Linked DNA regions of Homo sapiens: all the other regions are linked to region 1. The links come from fine-mapping of genetic effects on gene expression. A gene starts in region 1. Each other region holds a variant in brackets. All regions are shown on one strand. Distances are from middle to middle.

Evidence for each region.
Region 2: its variant is fine-mapped to the expression of SCCPDH in whole blood (TOPMed, PIP above 0.99).
Region 3: its variant is fine-mapped to the expression of SCCPDH in lung (TOPMed, PIP 0.98).

The regions. Positions count from the first base shown.
Region 1 is chr1:246,720,192-246,728,371 of GRCh38, forward strand. It overlaps SCCPDH (saccharopine dehydrogenase (putative)), which reads left to right and starts at 4,218. Exons shown (of 12, transcript NM_016002.3): 1 at 4,218-4,421; 2 at 6,701-6,813. The coding sequence starts at 4,232. RefSeq lists an enhancer at 3,652-3,811 and silencers at 4,022-4,151, 4,192-4,261, 4,362-4,571.
Region 2 is chr1:246,782,129-246,790,308 of GRCh38, forward strand. It overlaps LINC01341 (long intergenic non-protein coding RNA 1341), which reads left to right and starts at 7,489. Exons shown (of 2, transcript NR_015422.1): 1 at 7,489-7,570. It also overlaps the pseudogene KIF28P. RefSeq lists an enhancer at 616-735 and a silencer at 6,730-6,809. The variant T/C (reference allele first, on the strand shown) is at 4,004.
Region 3 is chr1:246,751,298-246,759,477 of GRCh38, forward strand. SCCPDH (saccharopine dehydrogenase (putative)) reads left to right here. Exons shown (of 12, transcript NM_016002.3): 6 at 6,929-7,059; 7 at 7,737-7,854. It also overlaps the pseudogene RPL35AP6. Among named protein-coding and RNA genes, the nearest start is that of SCCPDH, 31 kb to the left of the region's middle. RefSeq lists a silencer at 2,725-2,875. The variant A/G (reference allele first, on the strand shown) is at 4,367.

The sequences.
Region 1 (8,180 bases):
TAATAATTGCATTAACTGCACAAATTGTACAGCATGTGTGTTTGAGCAATATGAAATGTGGACACCTTGAAAAAACAACAGGATAACAGCAATTGTTCAGGGAATAAGAGAGATAACCTTAAATTCTGAGTGCCGGTGAGCCGGGCAGAACAGAGCCATATTTCTCTTCTTTCAAAAGCAAATGGGAGAAATAACACTGAATTCTTTTTCTCAGCAAGGAACATCCCTGGGAAAGAGAATACGCACCTGGAGGTATAGGCCTATAAACAGCCCCCCCCCAGGTGCACCTGTCTTTTATGGTTGAGACTGCAGGGGATGAAATAGACCCTAGTCTCCCATAGGGCTCCAAGGCTTATTAGGAAGAGGAAATTCCCGCCTAATAAATTTTGGTCAGACCAGTTGATCTCAAAACCCTGTCTCCTGATAAGATGTTATCAATGACAGTGGTGCCCGAAACTTCATTAGCAATTTTAATTTTGCCTCGGTCCTGTGGTCCTGTGATCTCGCCCTGCCTCCATTTGCCTTGTGATGTTCTATTACCTTGTAAAGTACTTGATGTCTGTGACCCACACCTATTCACACACTCCCTCCCCTTTTGAAAATCCCTAATAAAAACTTGCTTGTTTTTGCGGCTTGTGGGGCATCACAGAACCTACTGACATGTGATGTCTCCCCCAGACGCCTGGCTTTAAAATTTCTCTCTTTTGTACTCTGTCCCTTTATTTCTCAAGCTGGCCGACACTTAGGGAAAATAGAAAAGAACCTACGTGAATATCGGGGCAGGTTCCCCAATACTATTCACAATAGCAATTCTTGGAACCAAGCCAAATGTCCAACAATGTTAGACTGGATTAAGAAAATGTGGCATATATACACCATGGAATACTGTGCAGCCATAAAAAGATGATGAGTTCATGTGCTTTGTAGGGACACGGATGAAACTGGAAACCATCATTCTCAGCAAACTATCACAAGGACAAAAAACCAAACACCACGTGTTCTCACTCATAGGTGGGAATTGAACAATGAGAACACATGGACACAGGAAGGGGAACATCATACACCGGGGCCTGTTGTGGGGTGGGAGGAAGGGGGAGGGATAGCATTAGGAGATATACCTAATGTTAAATGATGAGTTAATGGGTGCAGCACACCAACATGGCACATGTATACATATGTAACTAACCTGCACGTTGTGCACATGTACCCTAAAACTTAAAGTATAATAAAAAAAAGATTTATCATGTATTCTTAACATTTTGTGTGCATATACATACATTGTTTTGTCTTAAATATACTCTTGTAATGTTAGGAAATTTGGAAGATTTTCCGTGTCACTATACACAGTTTTGTTTTGTTTTTTTTTTTTTAGAAACATAGCCTTGCTCTGTTGCCCAGGCTGCAGTGCAGTAGTGTGATCATGATTTACTGTAACCTCGAACTCCTGGGCTCAAGCAATCTTCCCACCTCAGCCTCCCAGGTAGCTAGGACTACAGATGCACATCACCACACCCAGCTAATTAAAAAAAAAAATTTTTTTTTTTTTTTTTTTTTTTTTTAAGAAATGGGGTCTTGCTACATTGCCTAGGCTGGTCTCAAACTTCTGGACTCAAGTGATCCTCCTGCCTTGGCTTCCCAAACTGCTGGGATTACAGGCGTGAGCCACTGTGCCCAGCCTACTTCATTCTTTTGTTTTTGTTGTTGTTGTGTGTTTTTTACCTAGAACCACCTGAATAGTCATTCTTCATTCTTTATAGCTGCACAGTTCCTATTGAATGAATAGGACACCATAATTTATTTAATAATTCCTCTGATAAAGGACATTTCAGTTATTTCTACTTTTTGTTATTACAAAGCAATGCTGCAATGACCATTATGTTAGTCCATTTTTGCGTTGCTTTAAAGGAATGCCTGAGGCTGGTTAATTTATAAAGAAAAAAGTTTATATTTTGGCTCATGGTTCTGCAGGAAGTACATCAAGTGTAGTGCCAGCATCTGCTTCTGGTGAGGCCTCAGGAAGCTTCCAATCGTGGCAGAAGGTGAAATGGAGCCAATGTATCACATGGTGAGAGAGAGACCAAGAGAGAGAAGGATGAGTGCTCTTTCAACTACCAGCTCTTGTATGAACTTATGCAGAGAGAACATACTCATTATCCTGGGGATGGCACCAAGCCATTCATGAGGGATCCACCCCCATGACCCAAACATCTCCCACCAGGCCCCACCTCCAATGCTGGGGATTACATTTCAACATGTGATTTGGGGGGGCCAAACATCCAAACCATAGCAAGCATGCTTCCCAAAAAACAAAATATATATATATATATATATATATATATATATATATATATATATATTCTGTTTTTTTAGGGTTTTTTGTTTTCTTTTGTTTTTATTTTCTTTTTAGAGACAATATCTCACTTTGTCACCCAGGCTGGAGTGTAGCTCACTATAACCTCCAACTCCTAGGTTCAAGCAATCCTCCTGCCTCAGCCTCCCAAGTAGCTGGGACTAAAAGTGCATGCCACTGTACCTGGCTCTGTAAGATTATTTTTTAGTGACTGTTTACTCCACTAGAATGTAAACTTCTTGAGGGCAGGGGCTTTATTTGTTGCCATATCCCCAGTACTTTATTCCTAGTGCCCAGTATATAGTTAAGTGTTTAATAAATACTTGAATGCTTACTACTTTACACCCACCAGATGGACAAGCATGAAGTCTGAGAATACCAAGTGCTGACAAGCACGTAAAGCAAGAGGATTCTTGTATCCCGCTGAGAGCGAAAATTAGTGCATGTGCTTTAAAGAGCAGTGAGATAACTCAAATATGGATATTCTAGCACCAACCATTTTCATTCCTGACACATATTCAATACACTTTCGCACAGGTGCTTTAGGAGAAAGGTACAAGAATTTTATTGTAGCATTCTTTGTATTATATTGCACAAAAGCACTATACAACATTGTACAAAAGCATTGTAGAATTTGGTGTATTTCTCTCTCTCTCCCTCTCTCCACACACGTATCACAGACATTTTTTTTTATTCTGAATCATTTGGGAATAAGTTCACGACATCATGACCAAATAAGAAAGCTGCAGGATTGACATTTACAAAATATTCAAAATATGCAAAACGGTACTATAATATTTATAAATACATACATATATAACAAGCAGAAAGATAGGAATAGGAATAATAAACACTAAATTCAGGCAAGTGGCCGTCTTGGGGACGCAAAAGGAAATGTGTTCAGGAATGAATACCTGGAAGCCTCGCTATCTGGAATATTTTTCTTAAGCTGTGTTGAGGGTACATATTTGTTATTGGCTGTACCTTTTTTGCAAGACATATATTTCAAAATTTTTAAAAGCATTCATTTATTCCTATTTTAATGAGAGTTTTTAAAAATCAGGAATGGGCTGGGTGCAGTGGCTCATGCGTGTAATCCCGACCCTTTGGGAGGCCGAGGTGGGTGGATCACCTGAGGTCAGGAGTTCGAGACCAGCCTGGCCAACAAGGTGAAAACCCATCTCTACTAAAAACACAAAAATTAGCAGGGCGTGGGGGCGCTCCCCTGTAATCCCAGCTACTCGGGAGGCTGAGGCAGAATCGCTTGAACCCAGGAGGCGAAGGTTGCAGTAAATCGAGATCGCGCCACTGCGCTGCAGCCTGGGCGACAGAGTGAGACTCCATCTCAAAAACAGAAAAGAGAAAAGAAAGGGAAAAAAGGGAAGAAAGAAAGGAAGAAAGCAAGCAAGCTCAAGGGTTCTCGGGGTGGGCCATCCCCGAGGCCATCCGCAGATTTTCTCGCACTCTTTGCTCCACCCCCACGTGCAACAAGGACAACCGGCTGCCGCCTCCAGCTTCCAGCAGGGCTAGAAGATGCGCTGCCCGGGGCGGCCAGAGCCCTGCAGAACAAACCGCCGCACGGAATTAGGGGCCGCCGTCCGCGCCTGCCAGGCTTGGAAGCGGACTCGCCCCCAGGGCCACCGCCCTAGGAAACCTCCCGTCGGAAGCCTCCCAAGCAAGCCGCTCACCCGCGGCTCCCGCGCGAGGCGGCGTGGGCGTGGGCGCGGCCCTGGCGCGGCGGCGCGCGCGGGGTGAAGGGAGCCCGGCGCGCTGGCTGCGGCGACGGCGGCCGTTGCTGCGCCGGGTACTGGGGTCGCTGCCTGAGGCGCAGGCGCCGTGGACTCCACCCGCCCCGGGGCCTGGGCTCGCTGTGGACTCGTCATGGCGACCGAGCAGAGGCCTTTCCACCTGGTGGTGTTCGGCGCGTCTGGCTTCACCGGCCAGTTCGTGACCGAGGAGGTGGCCCGGGAGCAGGTGGACCCGGAGCGGAGCTCCCGCCTGCCCTGGGCCGTGGCGGGCCGCTCCCGGGAGAAGCTGCAGCGGGTGCTGGAGAAGGCGGCCCTGAAGCTGGGTACAGCGGCGGGGCGGGACGGGGCTGCGCGGGCGGCTGGGCCGGGGACCCCGCATCGCCCCAAACGAGCGTTTCTCCCGCAGGGATGCGCCCTACGTGTCCCCGAGCCCTGCGTGAGGACAAGAAGAGGAGAGGGAGAGATGTTTCAAATACTGCCATAGCTTTGTCCCACCTCCTTAACTATATGTGTGTGTGCGCGTGCGTGTATAATATACACACACATTTTTTTTTCTTTCCTTCTCCTCTTTCCCGCTTTTTGCATTTCTGCCTCAGTTTGGGGAGCTCCCCTGGCGAAATGGTCAAGAACTTGAGTTGTCCCTCTCTCTGCTTCATCCTGCCCCGCAGCGGGGGCACCTGTTGAATCTGCGGGTTTCTAGATGTTTGGTCGGAGAGGAGAGGAGGGCTTTGGTCTCTTGGAGATCGGAGTCTCCCTTTGCCTCGTGTTTTGAGGACGGGAGAGCAAGCTTACGAGTTGTACTGACAGTGTCTTTGTGGCTATTCTGTTTTAGTTTCTTGTTTTGTGTGTAAGAATACTCCAGCAGTCTTCCTCTTCAGAGAATAAAAAGTGTGTATTTCTGGTTTAGACGCTTACGTATTCTCTAAGCATTCAGGTAGCATGTATTTATTGATAATCTAAGCATTCAGGTAGCATATATTTATTGATAATCTAAGCATTCAGGTAGCATATATTTATTGATTCTCTAAGCATTGAAGGAGCATATATTTATTGAGTGACGTTGTCCATGCTAAGACCTGTCCCGAGTCTGGGGTGCAGGATGGGACAGAGAGGAGACAGACACACGGATCCTGCTGCCTTCATGGCTGGGGAGACATCTGACTTACGACTCCGTAGCCTTTAAATTTGGCTATTAACTCCCGTAGATTTCCCTTATACAGACACCCATTAGAGTTCTGGAAATACTACATTCTTTCTGTTTAATCTACTTTCATACAATGCCCTGCTCGGAGTGCTTTTGTTCGTGGTTATGTACAGAAGACACCACGTAGGCTGGACTCTCCTACAGCTTTTGGTGCTGACACTACCAACACGTAATTCTGACCAAAGAGCTTTTTGGTCGTTATTTTTCCAACAGAAGTAATTTTACTATGAAAATATATGCTTCCATTTCTTTTTTCGGCTCAGCAAGATCGTACCGGTACAGCCTAGTCACTTATCATATATAATGCCCAAATCAAGTTTCATTGTGGGGGGATATACCTTCACCTATTGAAACCTGCATCACTTAGTTGAGCCAGTTAATTCCAATTATTTTCTTATGAGCCTGTGTGTGTTTATATAGCGTGTGCTTTTCACCTCAGAGTTCTAATTTTTTGTTTTTTGTTTGTTTGTTTGCCATTCTCCTGCCTCAGCCTCCTGAGTAGCTGGGACTAGAGGCGCCCGCCACCACGCCCTGCTAATTTTTTTAGTAGAGACGGGGTTTCACCGTGTTAGTGAGGATGGTCTCGATCTGCTGACCTCGTGATCCACCCTTCTCGGCTTTCCAAAGTGCTGGGATTACAGGCGTGAGCCACTGCACCCAGCCCTGATGGTTTTGATGTTAACAGTCAGTCCGAAACTCTCCATCACCTACAATTGGATCATAGTAATTGTTTAGTGGTTGATGAGAAACTTTATTTTTTTAAAGACAAGTTCTCATTCTGCCACCCAGGCTGGAGTACAGTGGCGTGATCACAGCTCACTGCAGCCTTGACCTCTGTGTCTAAGTGATTCTACCGCCTCAGCCTCCTGAGTAGCTGGTACTACAGGCTATGCCACCATGTCAGATAATTTTTTTTTTTTTTTTAGTAGAGACAAGGTCTTGCTATGTTGCCCAAGCTGGTCTGGAACTCCTGAGGTCAAGAGATCCTTGCACCTTGACCTTCCAAAGTGCTGAGCCACTGCCCCTGGCCAAGAAACTATTTTATGACATAAATTTCTTGTTGGAGAGGAAGTCTGGATAGTTATCTGCTCAGCATTTAAACTTGATTGTGAAATTGTCATGTTACACAGGGTTGTTATTTACACAACGCTTTGATTCGATTTTTTTTAAAAGGTCAGTTTTTTAGTAACTCTTAGTGTTAACTCAGTTTTCCTCATAATTTTTTCCTTTTGTATTACCTGATTAAAAACAGTTTTATCTTTTGTCTAAGCAGGAGAGCTAGCTTTCAGCATATCAGTGTATTTAGTAATTTGCTGTCACTGATTACTGTAAAAAGAAGATAAGGAAGATATAATCCTCTACTGGGATTTACTTTCCTTCATTTGTTTCTTATTTTAGGAAGACCAACACTGTCATCTGAAGTTGGAATCATCATCTGTGATATTGCTAATCCAGCCTCGCTTGATGAAATGGCTAAACAGGCAACAGTTGTCCTCAATTGCGTAGGACCAGTAAGTAATCAACCCTTCTTTGTATCAGAACAAACAATCCATTCATTTCTAGCAAAATATTCCAGAGGAACATAAGGACAGAGGACAGAATTGTTGGTTGAAGGCCTTAACCCCATATGGGGAGTTTTTTCTTCTTGCGAGGAGCAGCTGGAGATGACCAAAGTCTCCTGAGAGAGTGAGTGACAGGCTCTCCATGACGTTCTCCTTAGGGCATGTGTGCTGGCTTGTTGATTGGTTACATCTGTGATTGTCAGAATTTTCTTTCCTTTTTACTATATACCCCTTCGGTAAAAAATGTTTGAGTGTGTCTCCCTAGTATATTTTTTATTTATAAATTATATTCTTGTACTACTGGGTAAATATATTTTTTAAATGCACAAAAAGAAGACTAAAAAACGACTCATTTATTGAATAAATATTTATTGATGCTTACCACATGTGAAATGCACTATTGTAGGCACCTGGGACACAATGGTGAACAAAACAGAAAATCCCTCGTGGACATTACGTTCTTGGGGAAGACAGAAAAATAGGATTGTAATAGGAGGTAATGAAAAGTGCTTTGAAGAAAAGTGAAGCCAAGAAAGGAGAAAAGGTCCTGGCATATTGGTGTTTTTAGATGGATGGTCAGGGAAGGTTTCTGTGAGGAATTGACATTTGAGCCAAGATCTGAATGAAATGAGAGCAAATTGCATGAACCTTTTGAGGAGAGACTTTTCCAGGGACAGCAGGCACAAAGGTCCTGAGATGCCAGTGTGCTTGGCAAGACTGAAGAGTGTGACAGAGGCCAGTGTGGCTGGGCATGGCAGAGAGGTGGAGAGTGGATCAGAGAGCAACCCGGGAGCTGGGTCATGTGGGATCTTACGGGCCATGGCCAGGATGTGGATTTTTTTTCCAGGTGTGACCAAGAGGCGTTGAATGGTTGAAAGGAAGGGCTTCAGCTGATTTAAATTGGAAGTTCTTTGGCTTCTGAGTGGAAAAGTAGATAACAAAGGATGAGCAATGGAATGGTGCAAGCACAAGCCCTGGGGTCGTAGTGGTGCTGAGAAGTAGTTAGGTCCAGAGTATATTTTCAAAGGAGAACGGCTTTTGCTGTTGTACTGTGAAAAAGTCATCAAGTCACAGGCCATCAGACTTTTGGCCTGTGTAACAAGGTGAATGTTGGTGACATTTAGTGATCTGAAGAAGCCATCACAGTTGGCAAGATGTTTAAAAATTAAATATCTAAAATATTAATAATTTTTAATTGAGAGCAAAAGGGTTTTTGAATTGCTATTAAATAGAAGTGTTGTTGATTTAGATTCATCTCATTCTTAACTAGCTTAGATTCCATCCATGAGGTCCACTGCTGCACTCTATAATGGACG
Region 2 (8,180 bases), 62 kb after region 1:
ATCTCAAAAAAAAAAAAAATATGGGGGCAGCAGGGAACAACAGGAGTTCTAGTCATTGTGGTTTTTCTGTTTGTGTTTTTCTTTTCTTTTTAAGACATGTGATCTTGCTGTGTCACCCAGGCTGGAATGCAGTGGCTCAATCTTAGCTCACTGCAGCCTTGAACTCCTGGGCTCAGGCGGGCCTCCTGCTTCAGCCTCTGAGTAGCTGGACTGCAGGCGTGCGCCTGCACCGGCTTATTCTGTTTTTTTCTTAAAGACTTTAGGGAACTAAGATCATGGGAATCTAAATAATAAATGAATTCACTGCCTCATTACCTCTGGATATCAGACCACAGGCCTGGTGTCAGTTAAAATTGCATGTCATCCTTGGCCTGAGGAGGAAACAGGTCGGCGAGGCTCCAGGATAGGCTGCGAGCCCATGCTGACTCCCGCCTGCTCCCGGGTGGGCTCTGCAGGCCTGGCTCAGAGTTCCCTGGCAGGATGTGCTGCTCACCAGAGCCAACAGCTGTTGGGTGAATACTGCTGAAAGGTAACCGCAAGCTGGCAGCATTTCCAGGTCAAAAAACCCTCCCCAACCCTCACACAGCCCTGGTTTGCTCGTGAGCTTGTCTATGATATGTGACTCCCAACAGCTGCACAACACTGCGTCCTCCCTGAGAGCTGCAGCAGCAGTCACCGTCCACACGGTCAGCAGGGAGGATAGGTAAACACATACAAGATCAACCGCAAAGTAGCATTCGTGTTTCTAGCTGGGACCCACAGCTGTCTCTGCTGCTCTTCTAGTCTTCGGAAGTGCCTGTCTCACATGCACTGCCAACATCTACACACCCTGTCACAAGAGACCCCCAGACCACAGCCTTCCAGACGTCTCCATCTACACACCCTGTCACAAGAGACCCCCAGACCACAGCCTTCCAGAAGCCTCCATCTACACACCGTGTCACAAGAGAGACCCCCAGGCCACAGCCTTCCAGAAGCCTCCATCTACACACCGTGTCACAAGAGACCCCCAGACCACAGCCTTCCAGAAGCCTCCATCTACACACCGTGTCACAAGAGACCCCCAGACCACAGCCTTCCAGAAGCCTCCATCTACACACCGTGTCACAAGAGACCCCCAGACCACAGCCTTCCAGAAGCCTCCATCTACACACCGTGTCACAAGAGACCCCCAGACCACAGCCTTCCAGAAGCCTCCATCTACACACCGTGTCACAAGAGACCCCCAGACCACAGCCTTCCAGAAGCCTCCATCTACACACCGTGTCACAAGAGACCCCCAGACCACAGCCTTCCAGAAGCCTCCATCTACACACCGTGTCACAAGAGACCCTCACACTACAGCCTTCCAGAAGCCTCCATCTACATACCATGTCACAGGAGACCCTCAGACCGCAGCCTTCCAGAAGCCTCCATCTACACACCATGTCACAAGAGACCCTCAGACTACAGCCTTCCAGAAGCCTCCATCTACATACCATGTCACAGGAGACTCTCAGGCTGCAGCCTCCCAGAAGCCTCCTGAGGAAAGCAGGGCTTCATCTGAAGACAGGTCACTGGCACTAAGCTTACTTGTTTTTTTGAGACAGGGTCTCTGTCTGTCGCCCAGGCTGGAGAATAGTGGTGTGATCACGGCTCACTGTAGCCTCGACCTCCTCAGGCTCAGGTGATTCTCCTACCTCAGCCTCCCCAGTAGCAGGGACTACAGGTGCTCACCACCATACTCAGCTAATTTTGTATTTTTTGTAGAGACGGGGTTTCACCATGTTGCCCAAGCTGGTCTCAAACTCCTGAGCTCAAGCCATCCACCCACCTCGGCCTCCCCAAATCCTGGGATTACAGATGCGAACTACCGTGCTGGGCCTAATCTTACTGTTTTAATGTAAAAATGGACAGTCTTGAGGAAGACAGATTGGTAAGATTCATATCTTCATGAGAAAAAAAATAGAAAAAAAAAAAAACAAACTGTACGACCCCCTTAAAAGAGAACCTGGTATGTTTAAGCAGAAGCAGTCCTATCAGACAGCTACCTGTCCCAGTGACAGGATGCTGGGCTGAAGGAAAATGAGGGCATGAATCCAGGCCCTCAGCCCTCCCATACAATTCTCCCAATGATAAGTGTGAGAACACCGTCTCCTGTTCTGTTTCTGGTAATGACAGGCAGGTGCTCATGAGTGTCTTCGTGTGCACTCAATAACCCTTCTGTTAGCAACAGTTTAAAAGGCTATTTTTCGAACTACCTTGGACTATAATACAAAATAGAATAGCATGGAAAATGGTTTTTTAGAATTACAAATTTTCTTAAAACAAGGTCTGACAAGACAGGAAACTGCCAAGCCAAATTCTAGGGGAAAGCCTGGCCCGAAAGAGGCACGTGGAATATCGGGGCACCAGAGCCACTTTGCCCCAGTGGCCTTTGCTGGAAAAAAAAGAAAAATGCAAAGTACAAACACACTGAGGGGTCCCCTCCAAGGCCTCACGGAACATGGCAGAGAAGTCCATGCTGACTCCCTAGGGTGAGGGTCTCACGGGAGACCCTGTCTGCATCACACAGACCTGCAGGAAAGGGGCCGGTCTCTGAGGAGCTGGGCTCCAGGAGGATCCTTGCTTGGTTTCCTCCCTGGGGCAGCATCTTGGCAGCCCCAGCACCTGGAGGGCGAAACCCCGTGGACGGGGTGGTGGATGCAGTGCACAGGTGCTGACCACATGGGACGCACACACATGCTTATAGTCTTAGCTCATTTCACAATTTTTAAAAGCTTTACAAAAATCGGTCTCGGCCCAGAACATTTTGGCAATTTTCGGGCGATGAGCAGATGAGCAGAAAAGTGAAACTCAGAGAAGCTTCAATTGCTGAGCAGGGAGGGAGCAGCCCGGGGTGGGGGCCGGAGGCGCAGTCTGGAAAGGCAACGGGTGAGTGTGCTGGAGCCGGAAGCCTGAGGGCTGCTCCTCCAGGGGCCTGATATGCACAAGGGGTGCTGCAAGATGGGCCTGCATTTCTGTTTCCTCCTTTGGAGGCAGAGGGAGAGGAAACAGGGTCTTAAGTTTCTAAAATGGAATTTCCTGATAGTAAGGTCCAGCCAGTGGAGTTGGTGAAACAGCCTTTTCTGGAGTCCCTAGGAGGATTGCTTTTCTCATTGCTGCAGAAAGGCAGTCTGTGTTCTCACGGGCACATGTACACACAAACACACACTTGCACACACACACACGCACCTACGTGCATGGACAGACACCACTACCACTTGTATAAACTCCCAGGCTCCCTTCTGGTACAAAAGCCTTTGAGTCATACTCAGCATGAACAGATGCTCAGTGCAGGCTAGCTTAGGAACGCTCCCAGGAGCTGGTGCTGTGAGGGAGGGTGCAGGACAGGGAATGGCTGGTGCTGGGAGGGAGGACCCAGGACAGGGAACGGGAGAGTGGATCCCCCTGTTCCCCAGAGCTCCAGCTCATACTTGGAATACGTTTTGCCCTTGACTGGGTCTCCGGAGGCTGCAGCTGGTAAAGATAACCTGTGTCCCCATGGATCCTCACCTCCTGGGTCCCGTCCCCGTGGATCCTCACCTCCTGAGTCCCGTCCCCGTGCGGCCTCACCTCCTGAGTCCCGTCCCCATGGATCTTCACCTCCTGAGTCCCTTCCCCGTGGATCCTCACCTCCTGAGTCCCTTCCCCATGGATCTTCACCTCCTGAGTCCCGTCCCCATGGATCTTCACCTCCTGAGTCCCTTCCCCGTGGATCCTCACCTCCTGAGTCCCGTCCCCATGGATCTTCACCTCCTGAGTCCCGTCCCCGTGGATCCTCACCTCCTGAGTCCCATCCCCATGGATCCTCACCTCCTGAGTCCCATCCCTGTGGGGCCTCACCTCGTGAGACCCGTGGTGGGTCACCTTCACCAAGACCTCCTTCTGTAGGTCATAGCCCCTGGAATCTGACGATGCCAAATTTTTCACCTTCAATTCCATGTTAAGTCCCTGGTAAAAGAAACACTTCTCACTAAATAAT[T/C]GTACATTCTGCTGGGCACAGTCCCTCATGCCTGTAATCCCAGCACTTTGGGAGGCTGAGGCGAGTGGATCGCTTGAGCCCAGGAGTTCAAGACCAGCCTGGGCAACATAGCAAAACCCCATCTCTACTAAAAATACAAAAATTAGCCAGGCATGGAAGTGCACACCTGTAATCCCAGCTACTTGGGAGGCAGAGGTGGGAGGATCACTTGAACCCGGGAAGTGGAGGTTGCAGTAAACCATGATTGCACCACTGCATTCCAGCCTGGGCGGCAGATTGAGACCCTGTCAAAAAGAAAAAAAAAATCCTACATTCACAGCTCATACCACCTTTGCAATTTATTTTTCATTCTCCCACCCTCGGGCTTCCTAAATGATGAATGAATAAGACTCTCTCTAAGATGTCCCACTCTTGCCCCTTGGATTTCCCACTAAGAGGAAAGACAGAGCACCAGATTTTCTCCATTATATCCTGGAACTAACACTTGGAGTCCCTACCAAATTGATTAAATCTCTTACAAGGTTCCGGCCGATGGGAGCTCACGTCTCCAGGGAGCTGTCCCCAGCCCAGGTGGTCTGTGTGGCACAGCAGCCATCAGGGTGCCTAGACCCGGAGAGGCCCCAGGACCATCTGGGAGGGCCTGCTCATGGCCAGCAAGAGTTGGTCTGGGATCCCGGTGGCCCTGGTAGGCTGTTGGTGAAAGGAATGGTACTCGGGCCTGGGCTGGGCAGTCTGGCTTCTGTGGCTAGTTCCCTGAGAGTCCCTGGGAACGCACCCCTGCCCCACAAGGCCTTGAGGTCCTTTCTGCACCTGGCACACCAGCTCCTGGCTCCAGCTAACTTACCTTCTTTGGCTCTTCACTCATTTGATTTGCTTCTGAACCAGCGGCATCAGTTTGATGTAGTCCTGGAACGCAGCCAGGACACTGGGGCCCGCCTTGCCGTCTCCACCGTCCGCAGCACCTGGCAACAATCACAGTGGAGGCGAAAGTCAGTCACTTGTTCCGCCATGAAGAATTTTTTTTTTTTTTTTTTTTTGAAATAGAGTTTCACTCTCGTTGCCCAGGCTGGAGTGCAGTGGCGCCATCTCGGCTCGCTGCAACCTCTGCCTCCCAAGTTGAAGCAATTCTCCTGCCTCAGCCTCCTGAGTAGCTGGGATTACAGGTGCGCACTACCACACCCGGCTAATTTTTGTATTTTTAGTAGAGATGGGGTTTCACTATGTTGGCCAGGCTGGTCTCGAACTCCTGACCTCAGGTGATCTGCCCACCTCGGCCTCCAAAAGTGCTGGAATTACAGGCGTACAGGCATGAGCCACCATGCCAAGCCCTTTTTCTTTTTTTTTTAGACAGCTGTCTTGCTCTGTCGTCCAGGCTAGCGTTCAGTGGCATGATCTCTGCTCATTGCAGCCTCCACCTCCCAGACTCAAGCAATCCTCCCATCTCAGCCTGCTGAGTACCTGGGACTACGGGTGCAAGCCACCATGCCTGGCTAATTTTTAAAATATTTTGTAGAGATGAGGTCTCACTTTGTTTCCCAGGCTGGTCTTGAACTCCCAGGTTCAAGCGATCCTCCTGCCTTGGCCTCTCAAAGTGCTAGGATTACAGGCATGAGACACCACGCCCAGCCGCCATGAATAAATGTGTATGCTTATTTGTTCATTCATTTGTTCAGCTGTTCATCAAATATCTACATTTTAAAATTACAAGCATGTAATTTAAAAACAAACAAGGGAAAATGACACTGCCTGGCTTCTCCTTACGTGGTTGCTTATCTCGACCCATGAATCCTGGCCGCAGGCAGGAGGTCCTCTGCCCCCAGTTCCCATTCTTGGTCTCAGGGTCCTTGACCCAAGGTGGCTCCAGACTGGAGGAGGGTGGGGCGAGGTGAAACATGGCTGGCTAGACGGAAGGCCTGGAGGTATCCTCAAGCTGCTGCTGGCACAGCAAGTGACCTGTGCTTCTCTTATACTTGGGGTGGCTTGAAGGAGGGGCTCGTGGAGATTATGGGAGGATCAATCTCCCTCCCAAACCCAGGCTGGTACTGCCTCTAATCAGGAAATCTCAACTCTTAGAGACCCCTGGCCTGTGGGTGCACACAGTGCCCTTGGCCCTGAGGTCTGACCCCAAACTGCTCACACAGCTGCTGCCTTGTTGGGGACCCAAGTCTTCCCTAGGGTCCGAGCCAGGGTCTGGGGCTGGTTCAGCTTCATGGCGCCACCAGGGCCACAGGGGCAGTGGCACGGTCAACCTCTGAGGACAGGTCAATGAACAGATGGCTTTTCCGGGCCTGGTATGACAGAGTCTTACTGGTTCGTTGTTTTGTTTTGTTTTGTTTTGTTTTGAAATGGAGTCTCGCTCTGTCACCCAGGCTGGAGTGCTGTGGCACGATCTCAGCTCACTGCAACCTCCTCCTCCCAGGTTCAGGCAATTCTCCTGCCTCAGCCTCCTGAGTAGCTGGGACTACAGGTGTGTGCCATCACATCCGGCTACTTTTTTGTATTTTTAGTAGAGACGGGGTTTCACTGTGTTAGCCAGGATGGTCTCGATCTCCTGACCTCGTGATCTGCCCGCCTCGGCCTCTCAAAGGGCTGGGATTACAGGCGTGAGCCACCGCGCCCGGCCTTGTTCATTTTTAAAAGTCGAAAACTTCAGCAGAAGAAGAGCAAGGAGGTGAATTTCTAATCGATTTATTTTGCTGAAATTCTGAGAGAAACACTGTGGTGTGGGGACAGGGAGGAGCTCTTGCACACACACAGGTGGATCTGCCCACTTTCCACCAGCGGTTTCATTACTGCGAGTTCAGGCAGAGTCCCGGTGCCGAGCAAAGCGTGGGGCCCCTCCGGGAAGCCCGCAGGTCACTCAGATCGCAGCGGGCTCCGGCCTGGCCAGGATTCTGGGGGAGCCGCCCGGAGCGCGGTGAATCGGGGCGGGGAGAGGGGCGGGGAAGGCGCGCGAAAGCCCCAGCAGAGACCGGCAGCGGCGGGCGGCCCGCGTGGGCTACTGCTGGGGGCTGCGTTCGGGCGAGGAGGGGAGATTCTGTCTCAGAGGCCTCGGGCTGCACGTTCTTCCGGGCCGCGCATTTGCAGCCCACAGCAGGCCCCAGCCGGCCCCTCTGGAGTTGGGCCACTGCTTCTGCAGGCCCAGCAGGCCCCTGGGGGCGGCCGGAGGCCACTAACTGGCTTCTCCAGCTCAGCATTCTTCTCTCATTTGCTGGGTACCCCACTCTCTTCTCTACCCCTTTGAACCATCTTTACCCTCATTCCTCAGGGAACGTTTAACGAGTTGAATGTTTACCATGTAGTCACTCTATATGGAAATCATAATTCAATTTTGTAAACATCAGACTTTGACAAAACAAATGATGATGTTCTTAAGGAAAGCAGAGAGACACAGTGTGAAATCGCTGCTCTCAGATCAGCACACGGGAGAGGCCAGCAGTCAGGAGGGGGCTCACCGAGTTTGTCTGCACTCGCTCCCTCCGCAGCCGCCCTCTCCAGCTGGAAGAAGTCGTAATCGAACCTGCTCAGGTCCTCACTGCCCCACTCCGAAGGAAACCCCACGTACAGGTAGGTGCTGTTGGATCCCAAAATCAGGCGGTCCTGGGGAGGAGACGGTGGGCTCAGGAGGGGTTCGAGGCCAAGGAGGGTGAGGTGAACCTCCCCAGTGAGAAGGATCTGAGGAATGTCCTCCCCTCAGGAATCCCCCAGACAGGGAGAGACGCAGACAGGAGGGAGGTGGCCTCTGGCTCCTGCGTTCACCTTCATTGCACACATTGAGGGCGTGACTCCCTTGGCCCTGGGGTTCTGTGGGGACCACCCAGAGCCAGGCCCTCCCTCCACGCTTTCCAGGCTGGTCTGGGTGAGTGCAGCAATGGCTGCAGGGGACACCAGGACCTAACTCAGACTACAGGCTACAGACGGCCTTTTCCGAGGCGTGATGCCCAAGCTAAGCCCTCCTGGGCGGTAAGTCTTGGTGAGGCAGAGACGGCTGCTGAACAACCAAAAGAAGGGCAGTGTGGCCAGGGACAGGAGGCCGAGGGAGGTCACTGAGGGGGCTTTCCAAATGGGGAGCGGCCAATCCCCATCTGCCTGTCCTGTCTGAAAGGCTGTGGCCACCAGGGAGGGGAGAGGGCTGCTGGGAAGCTGGCAGGGGCCCCAGGGTTGGCAGATTGGGGAG
Region 3 (8,180 bases), 31 kb after region 1:
ATAATTTTTGTTAAAGAACAGGTTAGTACTTTAAGAAAAACCTGTTGTGCTTTTATTTTAATGTCCAGTTTACAGAAACTTTAACCAATATGTTTACACACAGAATTTCCTTTACAATTAACTTTTCAAACCTTGCTTAAACCTTCAAAACAATTTTTAACCTTTTAATGTAGGTAAAAATCCACATTCTTATGCCTCCTTATAATCCTTTTACCAAAAGTATATTTTACTTTCCTTACACACCTTGCACATAAACTGTTTCTTCAATAGTTTTACATTCAGGAGGCCTAATTACTTTTCAATTATATGACATTTCTTGCATAAATTCCCTTTTATAACATTTTTCACGACTTTCACAGACGACCTTTGACATGCCTTAACTTTCTGACTTGTCGTAAATATCCCTTTCTTTAAACAACCAGTTAATTTACTTTAGGACAAGAATTTACCATATAAGATTCTTTTTACATAAATTCTCCTTTTTTTTTTTTTTTGAGATGGAGTCTCGCTCTGTCGCCCAGGCTGGAGTGCAGTGGCGCAGTCTCAGCTCACTGCAAGCTCGCCTCCCGGGTTCATGCCATTCTCCTGCCTCAGCCTCCTGAGTAGCTGGGGCTACAGGCTCCCGCCACCACGCCCGGCTAATTTTTTTTTTTTTGTATTTTTTTAGTAGAGACGGGCTTTCACCGTGTTAGCCAGGATGGTCTCATCTCCTGACCTCATGCTTCACCCGCCTCGGCCTCCCAAAGTGCTGGGATTACAGGCCTGAGCCACCGCGCCCGGCTAATTCTCCTTTTTTTTTAATGTCAAAGATGATAACCATTCTTTTCCAAAGCACACTGCCTTCATGTCTGTGGACTAGACTGCCTGAGGCCACAAGATTAGAAGTTAGGATCATACATGTTAGACTTAACTTTTAGCAAACTTTACTTTTGTTGAAAACCTTGTAAGTTTGGGATTTTAATTATGTGCTAGGTGTAGAGCCTAGGACCTAGACAGAAGTGCAGATGAGGTCTGGCTTCTCCTAGCATTTAACTCCATGTGTCCTAGGTTTTCCCTAGCTGCAAAGCAGGCCAGTTGTACAGCTAAGAAACGGTAGTCTGTTTGGCTATCTGATTAATAGCTCTAAGTTCTTGCACTAACCAGTATGACCCATCTGGCTTCTTTACAGGCAGAATTTGAGTGTTATAGGGAGACATACAGGGTTTAAGCAGCCCGTCACAGAGAAGACCTTCAATTATCAATTGTAGGTTTTAAATTTACCCTCACTTTTAAAGGAATAGGGTATTGCTTTCTCTTTTCTACTTCCCCAGGGGTTTTTAATTTTTTTAATTTAACACGAATCGGAGGAATCTGTAACTTTCCTCGATTCCTGTCTTTTGACCATACCTTGGGATGAATGTGTTCTTTGTCTGCGGTGGGGAGCAAGTTTAGGGAGGGGAGGAATTTTCCCTAATCAATATAGAGGCGTAAGCCAAATTTTAGTACTAAATCTCTCTCTGATAAGTTTGTTCCTGCCTCTGGAATTAACAGAAATTTAATATGAACTGATTTGCTTTTATATATGACTTTTGTTCTTTTTCCCATTTGGGACATTGTCTTTTGAAGTGACCTATTTTTAATTCGAAACATTTGTTTTGTCCTCTTTCTCTCCCTTTGCCTCTTCGTCTGTGTCTCTGTCTCTCTCTCTCTCCGCCTCTCTGTCTCTTTCTCTCTCTTTGCCTCTCTGTCTCTTTCTCTCTCTCTCTTTTTCTTTGACTCTCTCTCTCTCTCTTTCTCTCTCCTTGACTCCTTCTGTTCCCTGTCAGTCTTTCTCCTCTAGGATTTTTTTTCTCTACCTTTGAGTCTCCTGGCTTTACTCTTTCATCCTCTTTATGTTGCCTGGAGAGTGGGGGTCTAGGTTCTTTACAGGTTCTGGCCCCCTGGGTACTTTGTTGTATGGTAGACAGCAGAATTTTTGCTTTCTGCTTTTTTCTTCATCTCTTCTTACATACACTTTTTGGGCTTCTCTTAGAAGCTCTTCTATAGGTTTATCTTTCCAGTTCTCTATCTTTTGTAATTTCTTATTAATATCTGGCCAACTGTTAGTGACAAAATGCAGTTTTAACATTCCCTGCCCAAGAGGATCCTCGAGACCTAGACCAGCATATTTTCTCATTTGTTCCTTTAATCTAAAAAATTTTATAGGTGCTTCATCTTTCCCTTGCTGTACATAAAATGTTTGGGTAAGATTCTGGGATACTGATTCTTTAATCCCCTTTATTATCAATTCCCTAAGGTCCTGCATATTTTCTTGAGGGGCTGCATTGTTATTGTCCCACCTGAGGTTTTGGGCGGGAAATTTTTGATCCGCTGTAGGAACGTTTTGGCCAGAAGGGTGTTCACGTTCCAAGACTCCCATAGCAGTTCGACGGATCGTGGCTCTTTCTTCCCCCGAGAAGAGAGGAAAGGGAAGTTCTGAAAATCCTTTTTACATTGCTCTATCTCACGCTGAAGTCCTTTTAGGGAAGAGGACTTAACGCTCGTAGTGAGTGGGCTCCTGGGACAGTTCCCAGGAGGCAGGGTTATAAGGAGGGGGACAATGGGGATAGGAGAAGGGTCTGGGACAGCAGCTGCTTTTTCTTGTTTTTGGTCCTTTCATTATCCTTCTAGTATTTTAACATGAGACCTAGGGGGCACTCAAGGGGAATATCCTTGTTATCTTTGTCCTTCTTGGTCCCTGTCTTGCTTGGGGTATTTCCCATATTGGGTCCTGGTTAGGCCCCATCTCTCATCTTAGAGATGTGTCTCCTATCCTTTAGCCCCACCTGCTGGAGGCTCCTCGCATTCACACACACTTTCAACCCCCGCAGAGTATCCCGACCACCGAGGAAACGCTTGGCTGCTCCTGTGGTGTTTCTTACCTTGGTCTGTGCACAGAGTTACCTGGTCGCTGCGGTGTGTGATGATCCCTTTCCCCAGGTCGCCAGCCAGTTTCTTTCTGCATTGCTGAGAGTCCGGGTTTATTTGTCACACCCGGTGGGTCTTGATTCCTTACCCCTGAGGCCACTGCAACAAGGCAGCGGGGCATGCCTCCTCATGGGAGAGGACCAGACCCTTCACCAAAGGAGAATGGGAATCCCGGGCGGGCCCCCAAATTTGTTAGAAGTAAATTTTCAGTGCCGCAAAAGAAATAGCACTTGAACATAAATTTTTTCAACTAGGCTGTAGCAGGATAAGCTGCAGACAAAACCCCTCAGACACCAAGTTAAAGAAGGAAGGGCTTTATTCGGCTGGGAGCTTCGGCAAGACTCACGTCTCCAGCAGTCGAGCTCCGCGAGTGAGCAATTCCTGTCCCTTTTAAGGGCTTACAACTCTAAGGGGGTCCGTGTGAGAGGGTCGTGATCCACTGAGCAGACATGTGTCCGTTTCACCTAGGTTATCTAATTTGTTGGCATACACTTTTCATAGTATTCCTTTATACTCCTTTTTATTTCTATAAGGTTGGTAATAATGTTCCCTCTTTTATTCCTGATTTTAGTAGTTTGGGTTTTCTTTCTCTTTTTTTTGGTCTGTCTAGCCAAAATGTGTCAGTTTTGTTGACCTCTTCAAAGAACCAACTTTTAGTTTTGTTGATTTTTTCTATTCTGTTTCATTTATTTCCACAATAGTTTTTATTGTTCCTGGATATGAAATTAATATAAAAATCAGCTGTATTTCTGTATGCCAGCTACAGTTAGAAGGTGATTATTTTTGTAAAAAACACCATTTATGATAGCATTAAATAAATCAAGTACCTAAGAGTAAGTAATAGAAAGTGTACAAGATTTCTTTGAAGAAAACTGTAAACCTTTATTGAGGGACCATAAAGAAGACATAAATTGAAGGATCCAGCGTATTCATGGATTAAAATATGAATCCATTTTGTAGTTAATTTTCTTCAAATTTGTTTATAATCTCATGCAATTCCCATCAAAATCACAAACAGGTTTTTTTGTTTGTTTTGTTTCGATGTGCATCTGGACAAGCTGTTTCTAAAATGTATGTGGAAACTCAAAGGGCTGAGAACAGGCAAGATATTCTTGAAAGAGAATAAGGCAGAAAGACACTCTTGGAGATCAAGACCTGTTATTAAGTCAGCATAAACCCTTGACATATGGTAAAGGGGCTTTTCCTATCATTTTTCTTTTCTTTTTACAAATCCACTTTTACTGGTATTTATTTACTTTTCATTAGTTCAAATCCTTGAGGAGTACAGCATCACAGAGCCGCCGTGACTAGTGGCCTAAGCAGGACGGCTGCTTTGGAATTAGGCACACATTGTGCCACTGTTTCCGTGGGCACACGTTACCTTTCTCCACCTTACTCTGGTTTTGTTTGGTTTGCTGCC[A/G]GGAGTCAGTATTATTCTTTGTACACATAAGCGCATTTCCTGCCCAAATCAAATCTCATTTTATGTCAGCCATAAATACCTTCAGTTTTAAGAAGAGCTGTGTCCTCCCTTTGGTTCTGGAGATCCTGCTGACGGCAAAAACGGCCTTGGACCACAGCTTTCCAGGCATACTTGTCATTTAGAATTCCTCCTCCCAGCAGGCCTCCGGGCTTCAAGTTGGCAGGAACAGCAAGGGGGCTTTTCGGTAGATGCTGCTGGGACAATTGAGTATCTACTTGGAGAAAAAATGGAATTGGATTCATACTTTTGCACCCCGTACCAAAATCAAGTTTAGATGGATTGTGGATGCCCTCACGGTTGGGAATGGCTTTTACAAAAAGACAAAGAGGCATTAAATGTAATGAAAAAGTGATACGTTTGTGTACTTTTAAAATTGAGAATGTTTCCCAAAACACACGATTAAGAAAGTCAAAAGGCTAGCTGCAATGTAGGAGTTACTTACAACACGTGGTAAATCCTGACATCACAATTTTGAGCATAAGAAGCCAAACACTCAGTAATAAATCTTGCTTGATTGCATTTCTGTAGAGCTTAGAAACAGGCAAAACTAATTGTACTGTTTAGGGATGAATTCTTAGGTGATTAAACTCTAAAGAAAAGAATTTTTCTTGATTACTGTAAAGGCAGGACGGAAGGAGGGCCTTCTTAGTTGCTGGTTACCTGTAGTTCTTGACCTGGATGTTTACATGTACGTTGGCTTCATAACATACATGAATATACAATTTAATAAAATTGTATTAGGTACGTCTCTATATTTTTCTGTGAAACGCAAATAGTTTTTTAAATTGAATGTAATTTTTTCCTTTTCAATGGCTTAGTTGTATAAGAAAATATGTTTAGATTTTTAAAAAGCTGTTTTCTCCTGGTGTTTGGAATCTTTACATTTGTAGAGATTCACATAGGCCCTTTTGGCTAGGCTCAGATTGAGTAGATAACAAATCAAACCTTTAAGACTTTAGTTCTGTTGTAGTTTTAATAAAACAGAAGAAATAAATCTGTACCAGAATGAAAGTTAGATTTGGTATCTCTGCTTTTCAGTATCATCAAAGCTGAGATAGGAAAACCTGAATCTTTGGATGGTTTTATTGTTTCTCTTATTTTGTTTATTAACAATGAAAGGTACCTTCATATCTGCCTCCCACATATCCCTCTTTGAAAATCTTGTGACAGAATTAGTTTTGAATCTTTCTGAATTACTCTGTTGACCTAAACAATGTAAACAACATAGAAGGAAGGACATAATACAATTATGTACAATCAATATAATAAATGAAGTTTATTCCTGTAATAGAGAATTAAAAGGCCCACCTAGAGGTTGGGAAAGAAAGGTCAGTGCTAGGCCGGGCGCGGTGGCTCATGCCTGCAATCCCAGCACTTTGGGAGGCCAAGGCGGGCGGCTTGCCTGAGGTCAGAAGTTCGAGACCAGCCTGGCCAACATGGTGAAACCCCGTCTTTACTAAAAATACAAAAATTAGCCAGGCATGGTGGTGGGCACCTGTAATCCCAGCTACTCGGGAGGTTGAGACAGGAGAATTGCTTGAACCTAGGAGGCAGAGGTTGCAGTGAGCTGAGATCGTGCCATTGCACTCCCGTCTGGGTGACAAGAGCAAGACTCTGTCTCAAAAAAAAAAAAAAAAAAAAAGGGCCAGCGCTGTGATAGTAAATTCAGAGGTCGTGTCCTCTCCTGGGGTCTCAGCCACTCGTTTCTCGGTGGCGCTAGAGGTAAGGGTTGGGGAAGCTGTAAAGAGTATTGGTAGAATGGAAGGCACTGACAGCCCAAAGTCTCATGAAAGGATGAAAAATCAGTGAATAAATGAGAGTCTGAGTAAGATCAGGCAAATACTAAGGACTCTGTACTGGCTGTGATACCAAAAAGAAATCAAGGGATTGAGGAAAGCAATTAAAATACAAATCATTATTAGTGAACTTTAAATGTTTTAAACAATTATTTTACTAAGACTTCAGTAGGAAGACAGATCTATAACTTGGGGCTAGAGTAAGAGGTGTTGGAGGTAGACGGGGAACCAGGTGTAACAGGATGGAGAGATGGACAGTACACAGTGTATGTATGCATAAATGTGCACACGGACATATCCAGAAATGTTGAGGAATTTGTGTAGGATCGAGAGAGGATTAGGGTGGCTATTCCTGCAGATCATATGGGGCAGAAAAAAAAGGATTAGAGTGGCTGATCTTGAAGGAATATGGTCAATTAGTTGAGTAAAATTGATGAAGTAAAACTAAATAACTTATTACAGAATATAAAGAATGATAGGAGGGGAGAAGAAAGGGCTTCTCGGTGTAAATATTGGGTATGATCAAGCTAATGAATGTGACTGCTCCCTAGCTGGTCATGAAAATTCTCCTCAAGATTATTAAATCAGGGATTATGTCTTGTCCAAATATAAGTGAAATATTGTTTGTAACAATGATAAGTTACTTGGCTTTACATTTTAGTAACTACCCTTTCATGTTTCTTTAACTCTTGAAATATTTTATTAGGGGTTGAGCATTCATGATGGTACCTGGAAGTCAGCAATTTATGGTTTTGGAGATCAGAGTAATTTGAGAAAACTAAGAAATGTATCAAATCTGAAACCTGTCCCGCTCATTGGTCCAAAATTGAAGAGAAGGTAAATTAACTTAAAATCCATTTTTTATATATCTAGTCTAAGTATATTGTTGTTGGGTTGGCTATTAATAAAGTATGTTACTAAGAAAAGCTTGGAGACTAATTTGTAGTAAGTTCAGAATTGTTTTCACAGATAAATAAGATATAATTAATCCATTACCATATGCTTGAGATAAATAAGATATAATTAATCCATTACCATAAGCTTAAGATAAATAAGACATAATTAATCCATTACCATAAGCTTAAGTACTTCGTGTGTAATAAAACATGTGAATCCTAGGAAATAAGTGAATCTTATGATGACTTTTCACTATCAATATAGAAATTAACTGTCAACTAAATTTTATGTGAGAACTTTTTTTCTTTTTTAAAAATTTATTTTAGTTTAGTTTTATACTGCAGGACATATGTGAGAAGTTTAGAGGTAAGAATTTAGGGTTGGGCTGTTGAAAGGAGCGTTCTGGTTTTTTTTTTCTTTTGAGACAGAGTCTCTCTTTGTTGCCCAAGTTGGTCTCAAAGTCCTGGCCTTAAGTGATCCTCCTGCCTCGGCCTCCCAAAGTGCTGGGATTACAGGCATGAGCCACCATGCCCTGCCACTGATTTGCTTATTCAGACATTTACCAGCCAAAGTTGTAATTGCAGGAAATGCAAAATATTCATAGGTCTGTCTTGCAGGTGGCCAATTTCTTATTGTCGGGAACTCAAAGGTTATTCCATTCCTTTTATGGGATCTGATGTGTCTGTTGTAAGGAGGACTCAACGTTACTTGTATGAAAATTTAGAGGAATCACCAGTAAGTATATATGGTTTATTTATCAATAAAGTGTGTGTTACAGTTCCTCTTTCTATTCAGTGTGGGATATTTTTGTTTATAAGGCAGAAAAAGGAAGAGCTAAGTAATACATGTTTCAGCCTCTGGAAATACACAGAATCATTAGGGTAGAACATTTTGTATTTTATAACCTTGTCTTTTGATTCAGATCTGGCTGCTGAATATCTTTTTAATGTAACACAATAGCAGCAAATTCAATACGGGAAATCCTGCTGTCATAAGCACCCCAGAATCCCTGTTTAGGGTTTCAGTTGCTAGAAACTCTTTTGCTTGTGGAAATGTCTGGA